Linked DNA regions of Homo sapiens. The protein of the gene in region 1 purifies or fractionates together with the protein of each later gene. This does not show direct contact. Each region holds a gene or a part of one and is shown in the gene's direction. Other genes may lie near its edges. The genes, in order: TMEM184B, CCDC9, REN and CLASRP.

Region 1 (7,428 bases):
TATCTGATTTGGTCCTTGAAGGGAGAATAGGAGTAGCTGTTTGCTGAGTTGAGTTCAAAGGGGTGGAGCTGGTCATTGAGAAAAGCATTCTTTCTTCATTAGCCTGTGGGCAGGGGGAAAGGTGAGGCTGGGGGCCTGGGAAACCATTATAATTGTCCAGAAGTTAAGTCAGACTGAACCAGGGCAGTGGAGGGGAAAGCGGACACATTTAGGTGGAATCTTTGAGCCTTGTTAGAAAGAATAGGCCAGGCATGCTGATCACATCTGTAATCCCAACACTTTGGAAGGCAGAGGCAGGAAGATTGCTTGAGGCCAGGAGTTCAAGACCCAGTCTCTATAAAACCATTAAACATTGAAAATTAGGCCAGGTGCAGTGGCTCACGCCTGTAATCCTAGCACTTTGGGAGGCCAAGGTGGGCGGATTGCCGGAGCTCAGGAGTTTGAGAACACCCTGGGCAACATGGTGAAACTCTGTCTCCATTAAAAAAATACAAAAAAAAATTAGCTGGTCGTAGTGGCGCGTGCCTATAATCCCATCTACTCGGGCGGCTGAGGCAGGAGAATCGCTTGAACCTGGGAGGTTGCAGGGAGTCGAGATCGCGCCACTGCACTCCAGCCTGGGCAACAGAGCAAGACTCTGTCAATAAATAAATAAATAAATAGAAAATTAGCTGAGCGTGATGGTATGCCCATGTAGTCCTAGCTACTTGGGAGGCAGAGGTGGAGGATTGCTTGAGCCCAGGAGTTTGAGGCTGCAATGAACTATGATCAAACCATTGCACCCCAGCCTGGGTGAGAGAGCAAAACCCAAGAAAGAAAGGATGGGTAGTTGCATGGAGGAGGGGTGAGAGGGAAGATAGCAAGGTAGGTGTTTATCTTCATTTTGGAAAACCTGAGTAAAGGTCTTGAGAGGGCTTTTTTCCTCCCACAGGGAGCACCAACTAGGGCCCCCAATACCACCTGCTGACCTGCCATATCACTCAGACCAGGTGACTTTCTGTCTTTGAGCCCCTTCCGGGCAACCAAGCCTAAAAATACCCACCACCTGCCTCTGTCCCCTGCCAGCCCGGGGCCTCTGTAAGTTGAGACCCAAGAGTGCCCCTAAGCAGAAACCAAGACCCTGAACTGAAAGCCCTGGAGGGGAAGTGTAAGTCAGGTTGTGTCTGGTCTGTAAGTGTCTTGTACTACACATTGCAGATATGGTGGGTAATTGGGACAAAGACTTCCTCCTGAAGGGGTTAGTGTGTAGGGAGGGAGAGCTGGGAAGTCATAAACAAGTTACAATGCAATTGATAAGCCTTACTCTTGTTAGGACAGACCCAGGCATGTCCTACCTGGGGCTGGGGAGGAATCGTTCTATAGGATTTTGCTATTACCAGATCTCTGGTCATGTTATACCTACTTTTGCGGGGGCATGTTCTCTATGCCAGACCCTGTACTAAGTACTGGGATTACATCAGAAAACAAAAAGGATACTTGGGAGGCACAGGCAAGAGTATCGCTTGAACCTGGGAGGTTGAGGCTGCAGTGAGCCAAAATTGCACCACTGCATTCCAGCTTGGGTGACAGAGTGAGACTCCATCTCAAACAACAACAACAACAAAAAAGCCAAAAAGGATGAAAATCTTTCTCTTCAGAATTTATTGGCCAGGCACACAGTGGCTCACACCCGTAATCTCAGCACTTTGAGTGGTCTAGACGGGCAATTGCTTTGAGCCCAGGAGTTTGAGGCCAGCCCTGGCAACATAGCGAAACCCCATCTCTACAAAAAAAAAAAAAAAAAAAAAAAAATACAAAAATTAGCCTGGTATGGTGGCACATGCCTATAATCCCAGCTAACCAGGAGGCTGAGGTGGGAGGATCACTTGAGCCTGAGTGGCGGATGTTGCAGTGACCTGAGATTGTGCCACTGCACTCCAGCCTGGGTGACAGAGACTGTCTCAAAAACAAAAAAACAAAACCGAAAAATTTTGTGTTCTACTAGAAGAAGACACACAGGGAAACAGGCAAACTATATAATATGATAGAAATGAAGTGACAGGGTGGCTCACGCCTGTAATCCCAGCACTTTGGGAGGCTGAGGCAGGCGGATCACGAAGTCAGGAGATCGAGACCATCCTGGCTAACGCGGTGAAACCCCGTCTCTACTAAAAATACAAAAAATTAGCCAGGCATGGTGGTGGGCGCCTGTAGTCCCAGCTACTCTGAGGCTGAGGCAGGAGAATGGCATGAACCCGGGAGGCGGAGCTTGCAGTGAGCCGAGATAGCACCATTGCACTCCAGCCTGGGTGACAGAGCGAGACTCCGCTTCAAAAAAAAAAAGAAAGAAAGAAAGAAATGAAGTGACAGGGAAAGTAGGGCACGGTAAAGGGAAATACAGAGTGCATGTGAGGGGTCTGGTAGTTTTACTAGGGGTGCTCACAGCAGGCCTCACTAAGTGGAGGACATTCGAGCAAACCCTTGAAGAAGGTGATGGAGGAGCCATTCAGGTATCTGGGGAAACAGCGATCGCAGCAGAGGGAACAGCTAGTGCAGGGGGCTCGGGGCTGAGTGTGCTCAGCTTGTTCTAGGAACAGCAAGGGATCAGTGTGGAGGGAAAGGGTAAGAGATGAATGAGATCAGGAATCCCCAGGAGAGTAGAATGTCAGATCAAGTGTTTGTAAGGACTTGTAAGGCTTTTACTTAGAGCGAAACAGTGAGCCAATGGAGGGTTTTGAGCAAAAAAGTACCATGTTTTGACTTCGATTTTATTTTATTTTTTGAGACAGATTCTCATTTTGTCACCCAGGTTGGTGTGCATTGGCACGATCTTGGCTCACCACAACCCAACCTCCGCCTCCCGGGTTCAAGCAATTCTCATGCCTCCAGAGTAGCTGGGACTACAGGCATGTACCACCACACCCAGCTAATTTTTGTATTTTTAGCAGAGACAAGGTTTCACCATATTGGCCAGGCTGGTCTGTAACTCCTGGCCTTAAATGAGCCACCCGACCTCACAAAGTGCTGGGATTACAGGCGTGAGCCACCGTGCCCGGCAGATTTTAAAAGAATCTTGGCTGGGCGTGGTGGCTCACGCCTGTAATCCCAGCACTTTGGGAGGCCGAGGCAGGCGGATCACAAGGTCAGGAGATCAAGACCATCCTGGCTAACGCGGTGAAACCCCGTCTCTACTAAAAATACAAAAAATTAGCTGGGCATGGTGGCGGGCGCCTGTAGTCCCAGCTACTCGGGAGGCTGAGGCAGGAGAATGGCGTGAACCCGGGAGGCGGAGCTTGCAGTGAGCCGAGATCGCGCCACTGCACTCCAGCCTGGGCAACTTTGAGACAAAGAGCGAGACTTTGTCTCAAAAAGAAAAAAGAGAAAAAAAAAAAAGGATCTCCCTCACCCCTGAATTGATAGAATGGATCAGAGGGCAAGGCTGGAACAAGGGAGAGGGGTTAGCAGAACTCTGCAATAATCCTGTGCAAATACTGGACCAGGGTGGTAGCACTGGAGGAGGAGTGGCAGACATCTGAGTCTAGATCTATTTTGCAGGTAGAGCCAACAGGATCTCCTGCCTGCCTTATTGGGTAGCGGGCAGAAGGGGGGCATTCATTCACAGCTGACTCCGAGTTCTGGCCTGGGGACTGGAAGGATGGAATTGTCAACAGCTGATGGAGGCAAAGCTGAGAGGGAGCAGGTTTTTGTGTGTGGAAGTGGGGTTGGCTCAGCTCAGACACGCTGACTTTGAGATGCCTGCTGGAGCTCCAAGGAAGAGGTGTTGGGTAGACAGTTCAGGCGAGGAGTCTGGAGACATAAATACATTTGGGGATCTTGAGCACATCAATGCCAGAACTTAATTGCATTTTATCTTGTTCAGTTAACCTAGGTGATGTCTGGACCGGCAAACAGAAATGGACTAGGCGGCTTGAACCCTATCTGAAGACTTTTGCTAGTTCGGCAGCCTAGAGCCAGACGGGGCAAGAAAGAATCGCTGCTAAGCGGAGTGGGAAAAAAAGGCCTCTTTCAGTGCTTTGCCATTTCATCTGGCCTAATTGCACACAACACTCGGTCCACGTTCATTCCACAATTCCACACGCATCCTTCACTCAACAAATAGCCATTGTATTTCGTTTCATCTTCAAAACAGGCTCAAATGGAGGAAATTAGGGTTAAAAGAAGTGAAGCACCAGCGAGGGTCAGGGGCAGAGATCGCAGCCCAGAAAGCTCTCGCGGTTGGGGGCCGGTCGTAGCTGGTTTTGTGAGTGGCAAGAGAACCCGGGTCGCGCCCCAACCCGCGGGGCGGCGGGCTGGGGTTCGGGGCGGCGGGCTGGGGTTCGGGGCGCGGCCCCTTTAAGGCCCAGGCAGTGATCTCAGCCGCGTCCGCCGCCCCGCCCTCCCCGGCGGCGAGCCCAGAGCGCATGCGCGCCGCGGCTGCACTCCACTGGGCCCGGGACGCGCCGGCGGCGGCGGAGACTCCGGGGCTGCGGCGCCGCCCGCCCCGCCCGCAGAGTCCGGCTGCCGCGCATCGTCCGCAGACGCCGCCACCGCCATGGGCTCCTGAGGTATCCCGCCTGGCCGGCCTCGCCCGGGAGCCCCAAGGGGGAGCTGCGACTCCCGAGCGCGGGGGGCTGCTTGTTTCGGAGAGGCCCGCGCGAGGGACGCCCGGCTTCGGCCGCCGGCTCCCGGGCGGGGAGGGCACTACGGAGGCCGGTGCGGCCGCGGAGGGAGGGGGCATCCGTCTCCCCACCCGTGCCTCCTCTCCGCCCCGCGAGGTCGCCCGTGGGTGTGCCCGCTCCCTTTCCACGCCAACGTGGCGGGGGCAGCTCCTGGAGTGTAATCGGACCTGTCCGGGGGGCGGCCCCGGGAGAGGGAGGCGGATGGACCAAGGCGCTTTGCAAGAGGGATTGTGTGCTCCCGGGTGGGTGTGCTGGCGACTGGCACGGCCGAGTGAGTGGGGGAGGCGTCCGTGCCCTGTGCGGGTGGCAGTGACCTGGGAGGGTGGTCGGCGGGGGGCTTTCGGGGCTGCGTCGTGAGTGGAGGGTGTACACGCCCGCCACACAGGTCCGCAGGTTTGGAAGGGGATCGACTGGGACCTGGGGCTCGAAAGATGTTTGCCCCCAAAGGGACCGTGGAGACTGGTTTTGGGTGTCTGTATCCTTCCCGTGAATTGTACATTTCCTCCTGGGCACACCCTTGGTACCTCGCTTGGATCCACTTACCTCCAGTGCTGGGTGGCTCCAGGCCAAGGCAAGGCAGTTATGCTGGGGGTTGGGCATGGATTCCCAATACATATCCCCTCTGGAGGTGTTGTATAAGGCCAGACGTTTTACTCCTCCCTCCTTTCCAGGGCATTTTGGGGCAAAGCAGGTATTTGCATGCCTGATACCTGTGGTGAGGTGAAGGCCATGTATTATTTATCTGACTGCTGGTGCTTTTGTAAGGAAAGAAGCAGCAATCTGTGCCCTGGAGGCCCTGCGCTGCAGAGTCAGCCAGGCAAACAAGCTCACCTGCACCTGCAGAGGCAGCGCAGGTCTCAGAGGTGTGACTTCGTTGACAGGTTATGCCTACAGTGTCCCTTTCCATCTACCTATTTAGCTTCCTTGGTAGAACCCCTAGGCTCTGCACCTCTGAACCTTGCCTAGGGTGCTGTGCGTATCAGAGTTGGGACCTGGGACGCTGGGGTGGGAGAGCCCCAGCAGCCAGGTATGTGTGCCCACCTGGACAGAAACATTTGATGCCCAAGCCATCAAGGAGCTCTCAAGCATGGGGGAATCAGATTTGGAAACAGGTGATCACGATGATGTGAAAAATACCAAACAAAGGAGTAGAAGGAGTACAGAGGCAGGTTCAGTTCCCGGGGAGGGGGATCGTGGCCGCAGGAAAGACTCCCTCATAAGGAGACGGTTGAGCTGAAGCCTGAAGGATGACTGACGTTCATCTGAGGCTTTTCTGCTTTCCACATATATTTTCCTGTGTAATTTGCACAGCAGCTGTGTGAGTAAGGAACAGTTGTCCCTATTTGCAGATGCGGTAAACTGAGGCCCAGAGGGAATTCATGACGTTCTTCTCCACGATACGTGGCAAGCCTGGATGGAATCATCCTTTAACCAGGACCTCTCTCTTGCTGCCAGATCTTGTCTTGCAACTTACTGAGCATCTACTATGTGCCAGGCACTATGCTGGGGCATAGCGGTCTGATGATCAATGGGACCTGGTGCCTGCCTTCTAGGGGCTCCCAGTGCTGGGAAGATGGACACTGATTTAGTGACCCCAATCTGGATACGAGGCTCCAATAGCTAATGTGGGTGGAGAAGGCGCTGTGAATTCCCCCAAAGCATTTGTGCAGTCGTTGGGATTCTGGATGTCTTATTTGTTGCACCCACGGTGGTGGTGGGTTATTCAAAGAGCCCCTTCTGAATTTCTCCAACCAAGTAGAAAGAAGAGCTTCGAGGCAGAAGGGTGAATGAGCCACTTGTCCTAGTTCTTTCCTATTGGCCGAGTTCTGTGAGCAGGGGCTTCTGTCCGGAGGCTGTTTGCTCCCTCTCTGTCTTAGAGGTTTTGCTCCTGGTCTCTGGCTGGCCTGCCCAGTCCCTCACCCTGAGAAGGGCTCAGAGCTATTTCCAGTCCCTGCTGTGCTCATTTTCTCTCTGTAAATTCCCTGGAGTGGAAACAGCCCCGGCAAGGCAGGGTACAGCTTTTTATTGTTTTGAAAACGAGTCACAGCTCTGGGCCTTTAGACTGGGGATCTGGTGTGGGAGTTCTGGAAGGCCAATAGCTGGGCCCCTGGGAGAGCTCTGTGTGGGGTCTGCACCAGGCCCTGCAGCCCCGGGTAGTAAGCACTCACCGAAGACCATGCTGCCCTGCACTGTGCTGGGGCAGCCCTCTAAAAGGTGGTTGGCAGAGGGAGCCCAATGTGTAACAAATATGTGCAAGACAGTGCCCTACTTGTGGTGGAAACAGAGGGCCCTAAAGGGGCCCAGAGGACAATAGGAACAACAGTCCGTTTATTGAGCACTTACTGTGTGCCAGGCACAGTTCAAAGCGCTTTCATGAATTACTGTATTTAATTTTCCTACCACCCAGTGTGGTGGGGGCTGTCACTGTCTGCATTTTGTAGGGGAGGCAGCAGAGAGTGGAACAGCTGAGTTTTGAACCAGTAGGTCTGACCTCAGAGCCCATGCTCCTCCCCCATAACCCTGGGGTGCTGGAAGTCGTCTTGGCCCTGAAGGACGAGGGGTGCTCCACCTATGAAGGAGAAGGAGGGCGTTCCAGGTAGAGGGAACTCCGGGCAGATGTGGAGGTCTGAGCTGCCTCACCTCTCAGACGCAGAGGCTTGAACTGCCTGTGACTGTGTTGGGTCTGTGTCCTGAAGACCTTTGGAGGCCCCGCCAAGGAGTTTGAACTTGATCCTGATGTCAACAGGGAGGCCTTGAAAGTTTCTGGAAG
Region 2 (6,921 bases), on another chromosome or scaffold:
GCCCAGCCGAGGCTGAGTCTTTATCTTGGGGACTGGCCTGGGCATTGGAAGGTGTTCAGGAGCAGCCCTGGCCTCTGTCCACTAGATGTCAAGAGGACCCTCTCTTGTGACAACCAGAAATGTCCCTAGTCATTGAGAAATGTCCTTTAGGGGGCAAAATTACCTCCATTGAGAACCACTGGATAAGAACACGGAGTTTGAGGATGCACAAAAGGGAGTGATGTGGCTGGAGAGGGCAGCAGCGGTGACACACACACCACTCAGGCTCCATCAAGTCAGCTCTCCCCAGGGTGCTCTGGGCAGCCTCTTTCTGTCAGAACAGTTGCCATAGTTTGAATGTGTCCGTCGAAGTTCATGTGTTGAAAACAGTCGGCAGGGCGCGGTAGCTCACGCCTGTAATCCCAGCACTTTGGAAGGCCGAGGCAGGTGGATCACGAGGTCAGGAGTTCAAGACCAGCCTGGTCAAAACGGTGAAACCCTGTCTCTACTAAAAATACAAAAAAAAGTAGCCAGACATGGTGGCAGATGCCTGTAATCCCAGCTACTCAGGAGGCTGAGGCAGCGAATTGCTTCAACCTGGGAGGCGGAGGTTGCAGTGAGGCGAGATTGCGCCATCGCACTCCAGCCTGGGCAAAAAGAGCAAAACCTGTCTTAGAAAAACAAACAAACAAACAAAATATATATATATATTTATACAAACACATACACACACATATATGGAGAGAGAGAGAGGTGGGGGTCCCACTATGTTGGCCAGGCTGACCTTGAGTGAGCTCCTGGCCTTAAATGATCCTCCCACCTCTGCCTCCCAAAGTGTTGGAATTACAGGCATGAGCCACTGTATTTGGCCTAATTTTTAATTTTTTTTGTGGAGACTAGGTCTCACTCTATTGCCCAGACTGGTTTCAAATTCCCGAGCTGAAGTGATCTGCCCACCTTGGCCTCCCAAAGTTCTGGGATTACAGGCATGAGTCACCGCACTGGCCTCAAGTGAATTTCGTTACATGCATAGATTGCTATTTGGACAATTATAAGAGGATTAAGTTTCATTGGTATCTCTGAAAGGCTGTGAACAGTAGCCTTAGAAATGGTAAGGAATTACCAGGTACTTCCACTTTCTATGTCTTAAATCACAAAATAAAATGACTGGCACTACAGGCAATCTGGTCTGTCCACTTATAACTGTCATTCACCTTAACTGAGGGTATTCTGTAGCATTCATCATCATTTGTCACAATACCTTTATTATTTATTTATTTATTCTGAGACAGAGTTTCACTCTTGTTGCCCAGGCTGGAGTGCAGTGGCTCAATCTTGGCTCACTGCAACCTCCATTTCCCAGGTTCAAGTGATTCTCCTGCCTCAGCCTCCCCAGTAGCAGGGGTTACAGGCGTGAGCCACAGCGCCTGGTCGGCTTGTCACACTAGCTTTATTATGTCTAAGTTTTGGTTAATGCTGTAACCTCCTGGACTCTGCAGCTATTCAGCTGCTGTTGCTTTGAGTATCTTCTAGTTTTGGGAATGCACCAAGCTCATTCACCACAGGGCCTTTGCATAGGTTGTGTCCTTGGCCTGCACAGGCAGCCTCTCACCCTCCGGCCTCTCCTGCCCCTCTTGCCAGGCATCTCCCACAGGTGCTGCTATTTCCCATTTACTTGTGTCTTCCCTTAGGAGGACAAGGATGGGGTCAGCTTTGTTCATCATCTCAGTTCCCCCACCAACTTTTCCTCCCAGCACGCAGCCTGGCAGTCAATGCTGATTTGGGAGAATGAACGACTGATTCTATCGGTTGAACGTTTATTTTATATATATATATATATATATATATATATATATATATATATATATATACTTTTTTTTTTTTTTTTTTTTTGAGACGGAGTCTCGCTCTGTCGCCCAGGCTGGAGTGCAGTGGCGTGATCTCGGCTCACTGCAAGCTCCGCCTCCCGGGTTCACGCCATTCTCCTGCCTCAGCCTCCCAAGTAGCTGGGACTACAGGCGCCCGCCACTACGCCCGGCTAATTTTTTGTATTTTTAGTAGAGACGGGGTTTCACCGTTTTAGCCGGGATGGTCTCGATCTCCTGACCTCGTGATCCGCCCGCCTCGGCCTCCCAAAGTGCTGGGATTACAGGCGTGAGCCACCGCGCCCGGCCTTATTTTATATTTTATGATTTCATTTACTTATTTATTTTCGATACGGAGTCTCACTTTGTCGCCCAGGCTGGAGTGCAGTGGCACGATCTTGCCTCACTGCAACCTCTGCCTCCCGGGTTCAAGCAATTCTCTATCTCAGCCTCCCAAGTAGCTGGGATTACAGGCATCTGCCACCATGCTTGGCTAAATTTTGTATTTTTAGTAAAGACGGGGTTTCACCATGTTAGCCAGGCTGGTCTCGAACTCCTGACCTTGTGATCCACCTGCCTCGGCCTCCCAAAGTGCTGGGATTACAGGCATGAGCCACTGCGCCTGGCCAGTTATTTATTTTTTTGAGACGTAGTCTTGCTCTGTCGCCCAGGCTGGAGTGCAATGGCACGATCTCAGCTCACTGCAACCTCTGCCTCCCGGGTTTAAGCGATTCTCCTGCTTCAGCCTGTAGCTGGGATTACAGGTGTTACAGGTGCCCGCCACCATGCCTGGCTAATTTTTGTATTTTTTAGTAGAGACAGGGTTTCACCACGTTGGTCAGGCTGGTCTCAAACTCCTGACCTCGGGTGATCCACCCGCCTCGGACTCCCAAAGTGCTGGGATTACAGGCGTGAGCCACGGCGCCCGGCCTATTTTATTTTGAGACGGAGTCTCTCGTTCTGTCGCCCAGGCTGCAGTGCAGTGGTGCAATCTCGGCTTACTGCAACCTCTGCCTCCCGGGTTCAAGCGATGCTCCTGCCTCAGCCTCCCAAGTAGCTGGGATTACAGGCGCCCGCCACCATGCCTGGCTAATTTTTGTATATGTATATTTTTTGAGACGGAGTCTCCCTGTGTCGCCCAGGCTAGAGTGCAGTGGAGCGATCTCGGCTCACTGCAAGCTCCGCCCCCGGGGTTCACGCCATTCTCCTGGCTCAGTCTCCGGAGTAGCTCGGACTACAGGCGCCCGCCACCACGCCGGGCTGATTTTTTTTGTATTTTTAGTAGAGACGGGGTTTCACCATGTTGGCAAGGATGGTCTCGAATTCCTGGCCTCAAGTGATCCGCCCTCCTCGGCCTCCCAAAGTGCTGGGATTACAAGCGTGAGCCACTGCGCCCAGCATTTTATTTTATTTTCGAGAAGGGGTCTGCTCTGTCGTCTAGGCTGCAGTGCGGTGGCATGATCTCGGCTCACTGCAACCTCTGCCTCCCCGGTTCAAGCGATTCTCCTGCTTCAGCCTCCCGAGTTGCTGGGATTACAGGCGCGCGCCACCACAACCGGCTAATTTTTTTTGTAGAGACGGGATTTCACAATGTTGGCCAGACTGATCTCGAACTTCTGACCTCAGGTGATCCGCCCGCCTCGGCCTCCCAAGGTGCTGGGATTACAAGTGTGAGCCACCGCCCACGGCCGGTAGAACATCTGAAGCTTCTAAAGCGAACTCTAAGGTTTCATTGGCACGAGGGGGCTCGAACCACGCCAGGCTTCCAGGCGTCAGTGCCCAGTGCTTGGCATCTACTGATAGAAACCAGGAATGAGGGGCTGGAGGCGGAAACAGCTTGAAGAAAGAGGTAGAGGCCAGGGAGTGAGGACGGTGTCTCCTTTTCCTGGAAGTTGGTAATTCAGGCAGAAGGAAGTTGGATGAGCTTGCGGAACACCCGGGGGGCCAGTCGGCCCCGCTCCCGCATCCATCGCGGAGGCGCGGCCCCTTTAAGGCTCCCGGAAACGGTCCCACAGGACCGGAAGTGACCCTCTTTATTTCCCTTCCTCACGTGGTGCAGGCAGGAAGTGACGCGCCTGGCCCGGGAGCTGCGGTCGCAGAGGCCGACGGAGCCGGAGTCGCGGACGCCGCGGGGTCTCCGGGACAGGTGACCTGGGGGAGGGGGCCGGGAGCGCGCCCAGAGAAGGCGGGGCCTGAAGCCCCACGTGGCGGGGAGTGCGAACAGGCCCGGGCGGGGTCGGAGTTCTCTGCGGGGGGCGGGGACAGGACGCCCACATGGGAAGCTGGAGGGGCGCTGGCGGGGCGGGCCGTTGGGTGGGTGGGCAGGGTCGGGGCGGGGCGTGGCCAGAGCCTGGGCCGGCGGCTGTGGGCGGGACCTAAAAGTTGTGGCTGGACTGTGGGCGGGGCCATAGTGTTGCTTGTTCAGCTGTGTGGCGGGGCTCGGACGCCGGGCGGAAGCTCTGTGGGCGGGGCCAGAAAGTTTTGCCTTACTGGAAGTGGGTCCAGATTCTTGGCCGGGACGTTGGGGGCGGACCCAGAGGCTGACGCAATGGCGGGGGCGGGGCCACAATGTAGTGGGGGAGCCAGGGGGCGGGGCCAGGGTGCTGGCGGGGAATGCTGGGGGTGGAGCCAGAAAGTTTCGTCTGAGCCACGGGCGCGGCCAGAGCGTTGGCCGGGAGGCGGGGAAGCGGGGAGTTGAGCCAGAACCCTGGGGAAGCCATGGGCGGGGCCAGATGCTGACGCAACGAGGTGTGGGAGGGAGTCAGGGGGCGTGTCCAGGAGGTTGGCCAGGCCAATCGGAGGCGGGGCCAGAGGGTTGACTGGGCAGGCCGGGGGCGGGGCTGGAATAATAATAAGAGATGGTAGGGGCGGGTGTAGGCTGTTGCCTGCGAGCCAGGAGGCGGGGAAAGAGCGTGGCTGGGAAAGTCGGGAGCGGGGCCACATTAATGGCCCATGGGTGGGGGCGGGGCCAGAAGTCTGGCGGGAAAGGCGGGGCCAGAAAGTTTTTTCCCGAGCCGTGGGCGGGGCCAGAGCGGTTTCCAGGATGTCGGGGACGTGGCCCTGGCATTCCCAGCCGGATTGAGGCTGGAGCTTTGCACAGAAAATCTGGGGCGGGCCTGGGTAGTTTTGTCCTTGTTGGGGCGGGTGGAGTATTCAGTGGGGCAAAACGCCAGTTCCAGGAAGCCTCGCCAGTGAGTTCTGGGCCTGTGTACAGAATCCTTTCGGGGGAGGCGGGAGGCTGTCGACCTTCCGTAGGGCGCTGGAGACGGGACTAGGACGTCCCTGAGGAAGGCGCGGGCTTGGAATGTTCTCTGAGAGCTTGGGCAGCCAATAAGAGTGGGGTTCGGACTTTCTTTGAGCGTGGGATTGGGAATGTTTCTGAACCTTACCTGGTGGAGCTAGAATATTCGCCTGGATATGAGAGGCACCAGGATGAGCACAGGGAGGTGGGTCTGGAACTTTCTTTTGCAGGCTGGTTGGAGGGGTTGTAGTTGGAACTCTCTTGAGATAGGGAACCCGGGCTAACACTCATACCACAGGGTGTGGCGGCTGGCCTAGAATCAGCCTTTGGAGGAGAGCAGTGTTGGATACTTAAGCAGTGGGTGGGGGCCAGAACATCCCCAAGGTGGGTTTGACTAGATCGTTTACATGGGAACTGGGTGAGTCCACAAAGATCATGAAAGGGCTGAGTCTGAATTTCTATGGAGAAGATGGAGGTGGCAGTTGAAAGGAGGGAGAGTGAGGGCTACAATTCTCTTGGGGTACAGGGTTTTTTGTGTATGGCTGTGAGGATCCCGCAGTATGTTAGAGGGTGAAGTAGGTTGGGGGGCCATTGGCCTTTGTCCTTTTTTTCCCTCTGTCCCCAGGAACCCTCAGTGCTGCGTCTAGATTCTGCAGGGGAGGTTTGCTGGGACCTTGGCTCCACGCAGCCAGCGAAATGGTGAGGCTGAAAAATGGGGTCTCTAGAATCTGAGTTTTGGGGAAGGGGGCTTGGGAGGATGGGATCCATAGGGGCAGACTCTCAGACCCTGGGGGAAAGTCCCTGGTATGGATGGAGGTTTTTCCTTCCATCCCTCAACTGCCTCCCGGTCTCAGGCAGCCACACTCGATTTGAAATCAAAGGAGGAGAAGGATGCTGAGTTGGACAAGAGGATCGAGGCTCTTCGGCGGAAGAATGAGGCCCTCATCCGGCGCTACCAGGTGCCCTAGCCCCGCCCTGGGAGACCCCATCCCCTCTCTTCCCCGCAGTGAGTTTTTCTCACCTCTCCCTTCCTTAAAACCTTTTCATGGCTCCCCATCACTGTCAGGATAAAGGCCAAAGGCCTTAGCCTGACATCCCTTCTTTCATTCCATTATTCATTCATTCATTCATTTGTTCACAAATATTCCCCAAGATCTTTACCAGCCCCAGTGCTGAGTGGTGCTGGGGATATAGCTGTGACTGAGACAGACCCAGGCCTGCCCCCTCCAGGGTCCACCGTCTAGTCAGGGAGACAGCCCTGTCCTCAGGGATGCCCCAGAGCAGACAAGTCTGGAATCAGGAAATTCAGGGGTCTGTGGGAGTCCAGAGGAGGCTCTTGACCCAGCCTTGGGGATATCAGGGAGGGCTTCCTGGAGGAGTGGACTCTGAGGCTTGAGTGGTGAGTAGACAATAGCCAGTTGAAAAGGCGAGGGGAACATGTTTCAGGCAGAAAGAACAGTTTGTGCAAATGTTGGAAGCAAGAGAGAGCTTGGAGCTTCAAGTTGGAGGGTTGGTTAGGAGAGAATTGACCTGGGCAGGTCAGCAGGGGCCAGGCTGTGCTAGGCCCTGAATGCCACCAGGATGAGTTTGGACTTTGTCCTGAGGGCACTGGGGAGCCAGGGAGAGCCTTGAGCAGGGGTGGGACCGGTCAGAACAGCTCTTTAGGAAGACGCCTCTGGGTGCTGTGCGGTGGTGGGTGCGAGGAGGTGATACTGGAGCCCAGAGACCAAGGAGGAAGCTGGGGCTGGAACCCTAGTGGGAGAGGAGGTACCTGGCTCAGGGCAGGGCTGTTGAGAGGGACTCAGTTACTGATGGGCAGTTCAGGGCAGGGGGAGG
Region 3 (7,022 bases), on another chromosome or scaffold:
ACAAATCATTTCTGTTACAATACCATGCTGATAGGCATAAAAGTTGCATTCATGTTCATGGGCAAAATGGGGGTAAGTAGAATGCATGGGACGCAAGAAGGATGTAGGAAGGAAAGGGTAGTGTGAGTATAGGAGGACTAGCCACTGAGAAGAAAGTAGAAGAAAGAGGGAATCTTTGTGTGTATGGGAAAGTCTATTGCAGAGTCAACTTGGGCTTCCATCCTGGGACCTTCCCGTGAACAGCTAGAGACATCTTCCTCTGGGCTTTGGCAGCCTTTATGTCGGGACCCAGGGGACCCTATATGGGAAATAGGGCCAGACACATGCTCTGAATCCCTGCTTCAACATTTCTGAGTCACCTTTGTCCCTGTGAGCCTTCATTTTTCTCATCTATAAAATGGATGACAGCTAGCTTGTTGGTGTGATTTCAGTAGCGGCTCAGTAGAGTCAGTTTCCTAGGTCTCTTTAATTCTGCCTCTCAAAGGTGATGGGAAAACATCTAGACAAGAAGCCAAGGGACCGGGACACATCTCTCCAAGGACGAGGTGCATGGCGCTCTGAAGATGCTGGCATCTCTCTAGGCCCAACCCAGCTCAGGGGGTCCACTCCACCACAGCCCTGGCTGGGTGCCTGTCCCCTGGTATCCTGGAGACCTTGCAGCTGCTGTGGGCATCTGCTGCCACCTAGCGGCCTCCCATGGCACTGTCTCCCCGCCAGCCCCTAGTTTTGACAGGGGCACTCCCTGGCATTAATCTCTTCAGAGGGAATGTCTGTGCCTGTTTCCTGTCTGTCCTCCCGCCAGGTGGAGTTCCTTAAAGGCAGTCATGATCATTATCTTTCTAGCTCCAGTGTCCAGCACAGTGAGGCACAAAGTAGTTGTTCAGCAGGTGATTACGGAATAAATGAATGAACGGACCAATAAACAAATAGCCTTGTCTAATCAAAATTAGGCAACAGAAGGAAGTCACTTCAGGGTTATTTAATCCCCGGGCAGCTGACTCCTCTAAATTGACTCTTGACAAGAAGTAACTCTTATAAATGCTCCAGAGGCCCTCAGCGACAGAGGTGATTTCCAGGTGGCTGGGCTAACGTTAAAGGTGGTTGTACTAAAAGCAGGGGTTTGGCCTCAGGGACTCCACCACTGTGGTGGAGGTACAGCACTTTTCTATTTTTGCTTCCTCCACCCTGGGCCAGGATCTTCCTCAAGAGAATGCCCTCAATCCGAGAAAGCCTGAAGGAACGAGGTGTGGACATGGCCAGGCTTGGTCCCGAGTGGAGCCAACCCATGAAGAGGCTGACACTTGGCAACACCACCTCCTCCGTGATCCTCACCAACTACATGGACGTGAGTGCTTGGCTCAGCCCCTCGCTCCCTCCCTGTCTCCTTTCCCTCATGGACCTAGGGCTTTCTTTGCTGCAAGACTCACCCTTTCCAAGCTGTGTTTGACGAAGGCGCTGAGTAGCACGTGAGCACCCTAGAAAATTCCCATTTTCCAGCTGGAAAGCCTGAGCACAGAAGACAGGAAGGCATCCAGGGGCCATTCAGGGGCAGGGTTAGGTTTGGAACTCAGCCCAGGCCTCAAGCCAGGTGTCACAGGTGGGTGGGAAGGGGTGTGTGACTCAGGTGGGGGTTTCTGTGACCTGGCCCAGCACAACCTGATGGCTTCCTGCCCCAGAGGATCCTCAAGAGTCAAGTTTGCTTCCTGCTTCATTCTCAATGTTTTGATTTTGCCCTCTTGTCTTACTGAGACTCCCACTTTCTGGGATGCCATGGGGAGATGCTAAGCCTCCTACCAGTTCCTGCAGGAAAATGGAAACCCCGAGAGGCTATAGGACCTCGCCTGGGCCAAGTCTCACACCGAGAGCCAAGAGTGAAGCCAGGCAAGACCCCAAGACCCAAGGTCCCCTGAGCCCCTCCAGCCCTCTCTTTTTACCCCCACAGACCCAGTACTATGGCGAGATTGGCATCGGCACCCCACCCCAGACCTTCAAAGTCGTCTTTGACACTGGTTCGTCCAATGTTTGGGTGCCCTCCTCCAAGTGCAGCCGTCTCTACACTGCCTGTGGTGAGACCTAAGACCCACAGTGCCTCTCCTCCATCCCCCTGCCCTACTGTGCATGAGCAATCCTGCCCAACACCCAGCTCCCATCCCTCTTGCCACCAAGGGAGTGGCTTCCTCTCTGCCTCTGTGCCCACTGACATGTAGGGGAGAGGGGAAGATGTCTCCCGTTTTTCTGATACAGCCACCAAGGTTAAAAACAAAAAAAGGTCCAAGAACCCCTGAGCACCCAGAAGGCCACTTCCCAGTCTTCCTGAGATTGAGACAGGACTGAATTCTCAAACCCATCCCAGGCACTCGGAACTCTTCCATCCCTAGTCTTAATCAACAACCTCTTACTAGGCACTTACTCTGTGCCTGGCATCTTCTCTGGTGTTATCAGTGTTAGTGATTACTTTAAATTCCTTCATTTAGGACAAAATTCTCGATGTATGGGCACATTAGGAGAGCCCAAGAAACCCAGTCCTTGATTGATGAAGCACATATTCCAAGCCCCCTGACCCTAGGGCCACTCATCCCTGCACCTAAGCTAACCAGCCATACCCACAATGCACCCTGCCTCTGAGTCCCCCTGTCTGGGCCACTCTTGGACAAACCTGAGCCTCTGTCCCCCTGCCAGTGTATCACAAGCTCTTCGATGCTTCGGATTCCTCCAGCTACAAGCACAATGGAACAGAACTCACCCTCCGCTATTCAACAGGGACAGTCAGTGGCTTTCTCAGCCAGGACATCATCACCGTAAGTTGGGCCGCCCTAGGTCATCTGCCCCGGACCCCTTCTGTCCCCAGGCCTCTCCTGACCCTCCAGGGCCCACACCTGCGGGGAGGTACACTGCAGCCCACTTGGAGCCTGGGGAGCTGAGGAACACCCTACTCTGCCACATCTGGCTGTTGCTGCAAAGCAGCAGTACCTATGGGGGAGCAAGCCTGGGCTACGGGCTCACCGTTGGGTGGTTTGTGGATGTTTTTGCATCTAACTTGCATGTAGGGCTTGTCCTGAGCCCCGTGGCTGCAGTCAAGTAACTCGTCCAAGTTCACCAGCTCTGACTGGGCTACACCCTAGACTGAAATCCAGGGTCAGAGTCAGGCTGAGTTTTAGGGTCAGGCATAGGTTTTAAGGTCACAGTTGAGGTTGACTCTGGGACTCAGGTCAAGGCCTGCTTTTCTTTTCCATGTGGCCCATGTCTGACCGTTTCCTCATCCTGGAGTTTCTCAGGCCCTGCTCCATCAGAGTTAGGGGAGGGGCACACGTGGCACCTGAGAGGAAATCAGGGTGATTCCTGCCTCCCTTCCTTTTTCTGTGAACTCAGATATAAAGGAGGGAGAAGGGCAAGCTTGTCTGTGCTAAAGAAACCCTTCGCCCATGATAAGGGTGGGGGCCAAGACCCAGTCCTGCCAGGCACGAAAGTCTGGCCACTGGGGAGGGGAGGAGCTCTTGGCAGCTTTTCTTTTGCTGCTTGGCAGGACCACCCTCTCAGCCTCTGCTCTCCGATCCCTGGTCAACTCTAGCTCTCTCTGGGCTCCGCAGCAGAGATGTGTATTGGCACAGAGTGTGTGCGTGCAGGGTTGAGGAAATACTCTTACCCCGATTTCTGTACCCTGGAGCATGTGTGCCCCTGGGATCCCTAGTGTGGAAGCCCAGACCAGACTCCAACCAAGGAGTGGGCAGTGGGCTTGGTCTCCTCTGGTCCTTCCTCCCACAGGTGGGTGGAATCACGGTGACACAGATGTTTGGAGAGGTCACGGAGATGCCCGCCTTACCCTTCATGCTGGCCGAGTTTGATGGGGTTGTGGGCATGGGCTTCATTGAACAGGCCATTGGCAGGGTCACCCCTATCTTCGACAACATCATCTCCCAAGGGGTGCTAAAAGAGGACGTCTTCTCTTTCTACTACAACAGGTGGGGACTGGGACTCCAAGGGCTGAGGTGGGGGGACAGGAGGGGAGAAGAGATGGGGAGTGGAAGGAGAGTCTGGGCCAGAATTGTAAAGTGTTTGTAATTAGGTGACAGCCAATCAATATCTAGAGCTGTACTAGCCAATATGGAAGGCACTATTGAAATTTAAATTAATTAAATACAGTTAAGCATCAATTAAGCATTCAACTGGTGGCTCTTAGTTGTACTAGCCACACGTCAAATGCCTGGCAGCCACGGTGGCTAGTAACTACAGTCTTATGACAGTGCAGATAGAGAATATTCCCAGCATGACAGGACATTCTAATAGACAGCGCCACTCTGGAGCAAGAGGAGATGCAAGGTGGGGGCGATGGTAAATAAGGGATTACTGTGACCTGTAGCCCTGCCTGTTAGGGCCATGGCTCCTCCCACACAGAGACAGCCAACTTCAGTCATCCATTAGATCCTTCATTCGTTTGTTTGCTCACTCATCAGTTCAGTAAATGCTATGTGCCAAGCACTGTGGTAGGCTCTGGGGGTGCAGCAGTGAACACAGTGAACAAGGCAGAATCTGTACTCCCCTACCCACATAGAGCTTACAGGCTAACAGGGAAGACAAGACATATTCCAACATAAAGAGTGTCACAGGCAGGCAGCAAGTGTGGTGCTGAAAACCATGGATGCTTTTCAATTCTAGGCTGAGCTTATATGCAGCTCAGCCAGCCTTGGGGAAGCTCTTGAGCAGGGTTGGGCTCTACTCCAAACTGCTGGGCTTAGAAAGATGGCATGAGTTGGAGACAAGAGAGCTGGAGGCAAAAGGGGCTGGGTGCAGTGGCTCATGCCTGTAATCCCAGCACTTTGGGAGGCCAAGGCGAGAGGATCGCATGAGCCCAGGAGTTAAGGCTTCAGTGAGCAGTGATTGTGCCACTGCACTCCAGCTAAGGCAACAGAGTGAGATCCAGTCTCAAAAAAAAAAAAAAAAAAAAAAAAGTCACAAGGGTAAGAACATGAGGCCAGTGGCAAAAAGAATAGAGGAGAGGATCAGAGTTCAGAGAAATCTCACAGTAAAATGGAGAGGAGTCTCCGGTTTGGTGATAGAAAGTGAGGCCTTGAGAAAAGGCCAATTGGCGGCTCTGCATTCAGGGGTGGTCTTTAGAAGAACTGTTTTAGAGGAAGTGGGGGCAAGGCCAGATGGCAAGAAGTTAAGAGGTGGACGACGTGGGTGTCAGGAAGTGGAGGTCATGAGATGTAGGCTGCCCTGGGACATTCAACAGGGAAGGGAATGGGGGGTGGCGTGGGGGGTGAGATCCAGAAGCAGAAGAGGAAGGGTGGGTGTTTTTAAATGCTAGAGGATGCTCGAGTGATGCCTGTAGGTGGAGGAAGAAGCCAATGGAAAGAAAGAGATTAAAAATGTGGAAAGAAGAGGAGCTAAATGGGGGCACTGGAGTTTGGAGGCCTTGAAAGAGATGAGGTTCCAGCAGACAGGAAGAAGCCAGGTTTTGCAGAGGAGAGGGCTGGCCTCTTCTTTTATCTTGGGATGGGAAGGAGGGAACATCCAGAGAGATACTGAAGTGTTGAGAGACAGGCAGGAGGGAATTTGTGCTAGCATATACACATACATTCCGAATTTATAAAAACACAAGTAGTTTGCAGTTGCACAAAATAACATATGCACACCTACACACCCATGCACACATGTGCATGTGTGAATTCTAGTATGAATTCTGGAAAAACACATCACACACACAGGCATGCCCTGGAGACTAGGCCTACAGTAGTCCCTGAGCCAAGTGCAGTGAGGAGGAAAGGAAGGTGAGGGGAATCAGCTCCAGACGGGGCACCAGGAGCCTGGCTCCAGTCCCCCACTTGTTCACTCATGGACTGGGTAACTTCAGGCAAGTGACTTCGCCTCTTGGTGACTCCATTGCCTGAAGGGCAAAGAGAGTACATAACACCCACCCTGCCAAACAGCAGGGCTGATGAGGCTGGCATGAAATGAAGCTTCCTTTCTGCTGTCTCTCTTTCTCTGCAGAGATTCCGAGTAAGGAGACAAAACCCCCACATGGCTGTGACCTTCCAGTACTCCCCGAGCACCTGACCTAGAATTACACACGCCACCGGCCCAAAACTCACATCAGCAAGCCCAGCCTCCGCTAGATGCCGAAGTTCTCTGTCTCTCCTTCCTGCTCTCTCCATGCCACCTGCCCACCCCATACCCAATAGCCTCCCCAGGGTCCCCTCCCATGCACCTGCTCAATCAGCAGCAACCCAAGAGTGAGGGGTGTCCATTTGTGTCTTGTTCACATCCACTCACTGTCCTTGTACCTGCTCCTTTTCTGTGACCTCTCTGGGGATGCTTTTTGGGGGAACAGCTGGACTACCCTGGAACAACCTCTGGTTGGTCTTGGGGAGGGGAAGAAAGGCAGAGAAGCAGTATGTTCTGCATGCTTCCCAACGACAGCTCCGAGCCTGGCTGTCTGTCCCACATTCCTCTGCTCTAGAGCCCTCTGTCCTCCCCTGCACCCTTGTGCAACCTTCCCCAATTGCCTGAGTTGCTGGGTCCTGGAGGTTATGGGTTTCCAAGAGCTTCTGATCTTTCCTTTAGGAATTCCCAATCGCTGGGAGGACAGATTGTGCTGGGAGGCAGCGACCCCCAGCATTACGAAGGGAATTTCCACTATATCAACCTCATCAAGACTGGTGTCTGGCAGATTCAAATGAAGGGGTCAGAAATCCTCAACCCTCCCCGGGCTCCAAAAAATGCTGCCGTCACTGGGGTTGGGGAGGGTGGGGAAGGACTGCATTACCATCCTGCCCTCTTTCCAAATGCAGCCACTTCTTAAGCACAGCCACCATTTGCTCTCTGCCTGCTCTGTCCAGGCTGGGGAACAGAGAAGGGAGGGGCCTGGGGAGAAGTGGTGGAGGGTGACAGTACCTTCCCTCCTCTACTCACTGCCTCAACAGGCCACCAGCGTGGCCTCCACCCACCCACCCACACTCAGGAAGGACATGCAGCCTGGAGGTGCCCCATCAGCCTTCTGTCTGTCTGTCTGTCTGTCTGTCTGA
Region 4 (6,973 bases), on another chromosome or scaffold:
CTTGCCTCAGCCTCCCAAAGTGCTGGGATTACAGGCATGAGCCACTGCATCCCACCTATGATCACATTTAACTGCATTTACAGCAAAACCCAAAATAACAGGGGCTTCAACAGGATAGAACGTTATTTCTTGTCTCACATACATAGTCTGTAGGGACTGAAAGTGGCTCATGCCTGTAATCTCAGCACTTTGGGAGGCTGAGGCAGGTGGACTGCTTCAGTCCAGGAGTTTGAGACCAGCCTGGCCAACGTGGTAAAACCCTGTTTCTACTAAAAATACAAAAATTAGCCGAGTGTGGTGGTGCACACCTGTAGTCCCAGCTACTTGGAGGCTGAGGCAGACAAATCACTTGAACCCAGGAGGTGAAGGTTGCAGTGAGCCAAGATTGCACCACTGCACTTTAGCCTGAGCAACAGAATGAGACCCTTCTCAAAACAACAACAACAACAACAACAAAACAGGCCTGGCACTGTGGCTTACGCCTGTAATCCCAGCACTTTGGGAGGCCAAGGCAGGTAGATCACGAGGTGAAGAGAGAGAGACCATCCTGGCCAACATGGTGAAACTCCATCTCTACTAAAAACACAAAAATTAGCTGGATGTGGTGGCACATGCCTGTAGTCCCAGCTACTTGGGAGGCTGAGGCAGGAGAATCATTTGAACCCAAAAGGTGGAGGCTGCAGTGAGCCAAGATGGTGCCACTGTGTTCCAGCCTGTCAACAGAGCAAGACTCCGTCTCAAAAACAAGAAACAAAAAACAGTCCATAGGTAGGTGTTCCAGGGATGGTCTGGTGACTGCATGATCATCGAGAGACCGAGGCTTCTGCCATTTTCAGTTCGCCAACTCATGGTGCAAGGTGGCTGTTGTAGCTCCAGCCATTACGCCCACGTTCCAGTTAGCAGACCTTAGTCACATGATCACATCAGGCTGCAAGGAAGGCTAGAAAATAGTCCCTTGTGTCTCTAAGGTTTGTCTTGTTCCAAAAAGAGAGTCCCTCTTTTTTTTTGAGATAGTCTTGCCCTGTTGCCTAGGCTGGAGTGCAGTGGCACAATCTCAGCTCACTGCAATGTCCACCTCCCAGGTTCAAGTGATTCTCCTGCCTCAGCCTCCTGAGTAGCTGGGATTACAGGTGCCCACCACCATGCCCTGCTAATTTTTGTATTTTTGGGAGAGAAGGGGTTTCGCCATGTTGGCCGGGCTGGTCTTGAACTTCTGACCTCAGGTAATCTGCCCGCCTCGGCCTGCCAAAGTGCTGGGATTACAGGCGTGAGCCACCATGCCTGGCCTGAGAATCCCTCTTATAATGAAACTTTTTGATTTGATTGTTATTTTTTCTTAAGTCCCCATTATGCCTGAGAATGACATTTATTTTTTCTGACAATTTTGGGACTGGTGACTTCCCAACTTGTGTCTCCCATGGTCTGGAGATTTCACTTTTTGGGTTGTCTCTGTATGTTGGGGGGCTTTGGAACCTCTTCTCCTTTCTCACTCTCAGGGAAAACTCTCCACAGCTGTGTAGGAGCATGGTTTCAACCCCAGTTCCACAACAGCTGTGTGAGCCTTCCATTTACTTTCCCTCAGTGCCTTAGTTTACTTATTATTAATTATTTTTAGAGATAAGGTCTTGCTCTGTTGCCCAGGCTGGAGTGCAGTGGTGTGATCATACTTCGCTGCAGCCTCAAACTGGGCTCAAGCAATCCTCCTGCCTCAGACTGCCAGGTAGCTGGGACTACAGGCGGGCACCACCACACCCAGCTAACTTTTAAATAATTTTTTTGTAGAGACAGGGTCTCGTCACGTTGTGCTGGGATTACAGGTGTGAACCACCACGCTTGGCCTTCAATTTACTTATTATCTGAGAATGGTGATAGTCCCACACGGATTCTCCTTGGGATTAAGAGGGCACCTAAGGCCAGGCTTGGTGGCTCACACCTGTAATCCCAGCACTTTGGGAGGCCGAAGCAGGTGGATCACCTGAGGTCAGGAGTTCGAGACCAGCCTGGCAAACATGGTGAAACCCCGTCTCTACTAAAAAGATAAGAATTAGCTGGGCATGGCACATGCCTGGCCTGTAGTTCCAGCTACTCAGGAGACTGAGGCAGGGGAATCAACTTGAACTGGGGAGGCAGAGGTTGCAGTGAGCCAAGAGCACGTCATTGCACTCCAGCCAGGGTGACAGAATGAGACTCCATCTCAGAAAAAAAAAAAAAAAGGCCACCTTGATATCACATTTTGCAGGGAGTAGGGCATTTGATTTAGGGCCTGATCAGAAGTTAGCCCTAAATCACACTACACTTCTCTTGTCTTCATCCCCGTAGGCCCGTTCCTCCCGCCGTCAGCCCTGCTGCCAGACCCTGACTTCTTCTCTGGCACCGTGTCCCTGCCCGGCCTGGAGCCCCCTGGCGGGCCTGACCTCCTGGACGATGGCTTTGCCTACGACCCTACGGCCCCCACACTCTTCACCATGCTGGACCTGCTGCCCCCGGCACCGCCACACGCTAGCGCTGTTGTGTGCAGCGGAGGTGCCGGGGCCGTGGTTGGGGAGACCCCCGGCCCTGAACCACTGACACTGGACTCGTACCAGGCCCCGGGCCCCGGGGATGGAGGCACCGCCAGCCTTGTGGGCAGCAACATGTTCCCCAATCATTACCGCGAGGCGGCCTTTGGGGGCGGCCTCCTATCCCCGGGGCCTGAAGCCACGTAGCCCCGCGATGCCAGAGGAGGGGCACTGGGTGGGGAGGGAGGTGGAGGAGCCGTGCAATCCCAACCAGGATGTCTAGCACCCCCATCCCCTTGGCCCTTCCTCATGCTTCTGAAGTGGACATATTCAGCCTTGGCGAGAAGCTCCGTTGCACGGGTTTCCCCTTGAGCCCATTTTACAGATGAGGAAACTGAGTCCGGAGAGGAAAAGGGACATGGCTCCCGTGCACTAGCTTGTTACAGCTGCCTCTGTCCCCACATGTGGGGGCACCTTCTCCAGTAGGATTCGGAAAAGATTGTACATATGGGAGGAGGGGGCAGATTCCTGGCCCTCCCTCCCCAGACTTGAAGGTGGGGGGTAGGTTGGTTGTTCAGAGTCTTCCCAATAAAGATGAGTTTTTGAGCCTCCGGGGTTTCGTCTGTTCTGGGCTTGGGAAACGCCCTAGTCCCTTAGTAGCAAAGAAAGCCTCCAGGCTGGGGGCTCAGGCCTGTCATCCCAGCACTTTGGGAGGCCAAAGCAGGAGGATCGCTTGAGCTCACGAGTTTGAGACCAGCCTGGGCAACATGACGAAACCTAGTCTCTACAAAAAATACAAAAATTAGCCGGGCGTGGTGCTGCGCGCCTGTAATCCCAGCTACTCTAGAGGCTGAGGTGGGAGGATCGCTTGAGCCCAGGAGGTGGACGTTGCAGTGAGCCAAGACCGCACCACTGCACTCCAGCTTGGGCGACAGCGCGAGGCTGTGTCTCAAAAAAATAAAAAATGAAAATGAAAATAAAAAATGAGACCGGGCATGGTGGCTCATGGCTGTAATCCCAGCACTTTGGGAGGCCGAGGCAGGTGGATCACCTGAGGTCAGGAGTTTGAGACCAGCCTAACCAAAATGGTGAAACCCCATCTCTACTAAAAATACAAAAATTAGCCGGGCTTGGTGGCGCGCGCTTGTAGTCCCAGCTACTCGGGAGGCTGAGGTGGGAGAATAGCTGAAACCCAGGAGGCAAAGGTTGCAGTGAGCCTAGATCGCGCCACTGCCTTCTAGCCTGGGAGACAAAGAGAGACTCCGTCTCAAAAAAATAAAATTAAATAAATAAATAAAATAAAAAAGATAAAAAGATAAAGCATCCAAGCTCTTCCCTTCTCCGCTCTCCCACTTCTTCCTCGGGATCCCGCCCCTCTCGACTCTAGGACCCGCCTCTCTCGTCGGCGGAAGTGCGCTGCGCGGCCCTCCACCATGCTCCGCCCCCTCCCCCTAGCGCGGCCTTTCATTTCCGCTTCCGGTGCGGGCCGCGCGCGAGCGCAGCGGTGGGAGGCGGCGACCAGCCGGTGAGTGCAGGCTGCGGCTCGACCTCCCGGTTTTCGGGCAGGCCTCAGCCCAGCTTCTCCCTTTCCTCAGGCTCTCCCCATGCTGCTGTGGGCTTCTGCTGCGTCCCGGCCCCGAGGATCGCTCGTCCCTCACCCCATTAGGCCTGACGGGCCTCAGGCCGAGCCCGTGCCCCGGCTGTGGGCCAGAAGTTGCCGCGTCGAACTCGGCCTTCGGCCCAGCAGCTTATCACAGGCCCCGCCCCCTTGTCAAAAAAAAAAACAACAAAAAAAAAACCCAGCCCAAATCCTCAGGCCGCGACGCGATCCACAAGCCCCGTCCAAACCTTCGGTCTCCGCCCTTTCCCGCAAGCCCTGCCCCCAAGCTCAGCCCACGCCCTCCTGTCAGCCAGCTCCGCCTCTCTCAGGCTCTACGCTCTTTTTCTTTGGATGCTCTCCCCACCCCGCCATCTAGATCCCATCTTTAGACCTCAGCTTCACTCTGGTCTCCTTGCAACACTCCCTCCCCGTGTTCCCACTCCCTCTAGCATCTTCATCTTCCGCCACGCCCTTCACCTGTCCTCGACCTCCACCTTCATACAACTGCACTGTTCCCTTAAAAGCTTTCTCCGATTTCCTCCACCTGCCTTCATCCTTATTCTCCTTATCCCTCTACCACCCAGACTCATACCCAACCCCACGCATGGCCCCTAGTGGGAGCCTTTTCAGTTCTTCTCTTTCTCTTGAGCTCCAGCCTTAAGTGCTCAGGGTTTGCCTTCTGACCCTACTTCAAACACTGCTGATGTTTCAAAACCTTTCATTCCCGACTCCAGCGCGTGGAATCTAGGACACCCCTTTCCCAGTGATGCTCACCTCAGAATCACCTGAGGGTTTTTCAGAATGCCCAAGCTTCTAGATCGAAGTTGTTAGGGATGGACTTGAACATCTGGCATACTGTTCTGCAGCTTCACTTCTGCTCCCTGAAGCTAAGAGATGTGTTGTTTGGGATCGACTCTGCCACCAACTTGTTAGATGACTTTGATTCTGCCCATACGGGTTTCACAGACCATCTGACTTTCCTGGTCCCTTCATCCCTCAGGTTGAGGCCCCAGGCTTGGCCTCACCACAATGTGGCACGAGGCTCGGAAGCATGAGCGGAAGCTTCGAGGCATGATGGTCGACTACAAGAAGAGGGCGGAGCGGAGACGGGAGTATTATGAAAAGATCGTGAGTAACTGGCCTTTTGTCTGGGGTGAGGGACCCTGGGTTGGGGGGCACAGCTGGTCATCCTGGTAAAATCTGGGCTTGGAAGTATGTCAAGACAAGAGGCTCATTTCCTCAGGAGTATATTCATTAATCTTTTCTTGAGGATAATCATTGGTGGGATCCCAAGGGCTTCTGTTTGTTGTAGCATACTGTGTCGTTTGGTGTGGCCTCCCAGTGCCGATCCGGTGTTAGCAAGAAAAAGGGAAGTCTCTGTAACCCTCAGAGCAGTCCTGACGTTAGACTGGCCACCTCCAGAATGTCTGTTTCGCTTATTGCTGTGTTCCCCATTCCCAGAAGAGCTCAGCCACTCTTGAGATTTGGCTTGGCACACAATAGGAGTGAGTATTAAGTTGGCCTGGCACAGTGGCTCACGCCTGTAATCCCAAGTGGATCACCTGAGGTCACGAGTTCGAGACCAGCCTGGCCAAAAGGGTGAAACCCCATCTCTACTAAAGATACAAAAATTAGCCAGGCTTAGTGGTGTGTGCATGTAGTCCCAGCTACTTGGGAGGCTGACGCACGAGAATTGCTTGAGCCCGGGAGGAGGAGGCTGTAGTGCATGGAGATTGTGCCACTGAACTCCAGCCTGGGTGACAGAGCAAGACTCAACGCCTGTAATCCCAGCACTTTGGGAGGCCGAGGTGGACAGATCACAAGGTCAAGAGATCGAGACCGTCCTGGCTAACACGGTGAAACCCCATCTCTATTAAAATACAAAAAATTAGCCAGGTGAGGTGGCGGGTGCCTGTAGTCCCAGCTACTCGGGAGGCTGAGGCAGGAGAATGGTGTGAACCGGGGAGGGGGGCAGAGCGGAGCCTGCAGTGAGCTGAGATAGCACCATTGCACTCCAGCCTGGGCGACAGCGAGACTCTGTCTCAAAAAAAAAAAAAAAAAGACTGTCTCAAAAAAAAAGGAGTGAATATTAAGTGAAACCTGACCACTTCCCTCTCCTGTCTGATGCTTCAGTTGTTTTTGCGGGGAAGACCAAACTATCCCTGGCCTAAAAGACCCTTGTGGTCTGACCACTCAGCTTCATACTCGGACAGCTCCACTGGCCTTCTATTTCTGCCACCACAGGGCTTTGGCCTATATTACCCCCCCTCACCTATTTAACTCCTGTGTATCCTTGGGATCCCAGCTTGAAATGGCACCTGTTTTCTAGGTTCAGTGTTCCTGTCAGATGACATTTATATAGACCTTTCCCAGTTATTCCTGTATTACTGCCCCAGCCTCCTCCCTGGTCTGCTGGCCTCCAGTCCTGGCTCCTCCAGTCTGTCCTTCCTAGAAGAGTCCAAGAGGCCTTTCTAAAGCACAAAACTGACCCTGTCCCTTCGTTGCTCAGAGCACCTCTATGCCTCCTAAGTGCCCTTGAGAGAAAGCCCAGGCTCCTCACTGTGGCCTTTAGGGTCCTGCATGGCCTGGCCTTTGCCCTTCCTCCAGACTCACACCACCCCACACTCTGCCTTGTTCCTTTGCACAAGTCATTTTGGCCTCCTTGCTATTCCTCCACTGACCCAAGCGCTCCCCAGCCACAGGACCTTTGTATGAGCTCTTCCCATACCTGGTTAACTACTGCTTATCTGTCAGATCTCAGTCCTCAGAGAAGTCTTGTTTCCCAAGCTCAGTCAGGTGTCCTCTAAAAATGCCATAATCATAGCTCCCTTTCCTTCCCCTTTGTGGAATTTAACACACTTAAGATACACATACA

The links.
Region 2: the proteins of TMEM184B (region 1) and CCDC9 purify together in Homo sapiens (affinity purification with mass spectrometry; 2 studies listed by BioGRID and IntAct, with this or other methods). This does not show direct contact.
Region 3: the proteins of TMEM184B (region 1) and REN purify together in Homo sapiens (affinity purification with mass spectrometry; 2 studies listed by BioGRID and IntAct, with this or other methods). This does not show direct contact.
Region 4: the proteins of TMEM184B (region 1) and CLASRP purify together in Homo sapiens (affinity purification with mass spectrometry; 2 studies listed by BioGRID and IntAct, with this or other methods). This does not show direct contact.

What each region holds. Positions count from the first base shown.
Region 1 is NC_000022.11:38,270,000-38,277,427, reverse strand, and holds the start of TMEM184B (transmembrane protein 184B), read left to right. Parts: upstream 1-4,417; 5' UTR 4,418-4,544; exon of another isoform or gene 4,545-4,859; coding exon of another isoform or gene 4,860-4,900; exon of another isoform or gene 4,901-4,929; intron 4,930-7,428. UniProt on the Homo sapiens protein: May activate the MAP kinase signaling pathway.
Region 2 is NC_000019.10:47,252,620-47,259,540, forward strand, and holds the start of CCDC9 (coiled-coil domain-containing protein 9), read left to right. Parts: upstream 1-3,905; 5' UTR 3,906-3,990; intron 3,991-4,877; exon of another isoform or gene 4,878-5,290; intron 5,291-5,710; 5' UTR 5,711-5,781; coding exon 5,782-5,784; intron 5,785-5,939; coding exon 5,940-6,044; exon of another isoform or gene 6,045-6,091; intron 6,092-6,921. UniProt on the Homo sapiens protein: Probable component of the exon junction complex (EJC), a multiprotein complex that associates immediately upstream of the exon-exon junction on mRNAs and serves as a positional landmark for the intron exon structure of genes and directs post-transcriptional processes in the cytoplasm such as mRNA export, nonsense-mediated mRNA decay (NMD) or translation.
Region 3 is NC_000001.11:204,156,336-204,163,357, reverse strand, and holds part of REN (renin preproprotein), read left to right. Parts: intron 1-1,194; coding exon 1,195-1,345; intron 1,346-1,942; coding exon 1,943-2,066; intron 2,067-2,679; coding exon 2,680-2,798; intron 2,799-3,762; coding exon 3,763-3,959; intron 3,960-5,988; coding exon 5,989-5,997; intron 5,998-6,561; coding exon 6,562-6,681; intron 6,682-7,022. UniProt on the Homo sapiens protein: Renin is a highly specific endopeptidase, whose only known function is to generate angiotensin I from angiotensinogen in the plasma, initiating a cascade of reactions that produce an elevation of blood pressure and increased sodium retention by the kidney.
Region 4 is NC_000019.10:45,035,086-45,042,058, forward strand, and holds the start of CLASRP (CLK4-associating serine/arginine rich protein), read left to right. Parts: upstream 1-3,959; 5' UTR 3,960-4,023; intron 4,024-5,098; 5' UTR 5,099-5,127; coding exon 5,128-5,226; intron 5,227-6,973. Other genes in the region: transcription factor RelB, read left to right, coding at 2,320-2,705. UniProt on the Homo sapiens protein: Probably functions as an alternative splicing regulator. May regulate the mRNA splicing of genes such as CLK1. May act by regulating members of the CLK kinase family.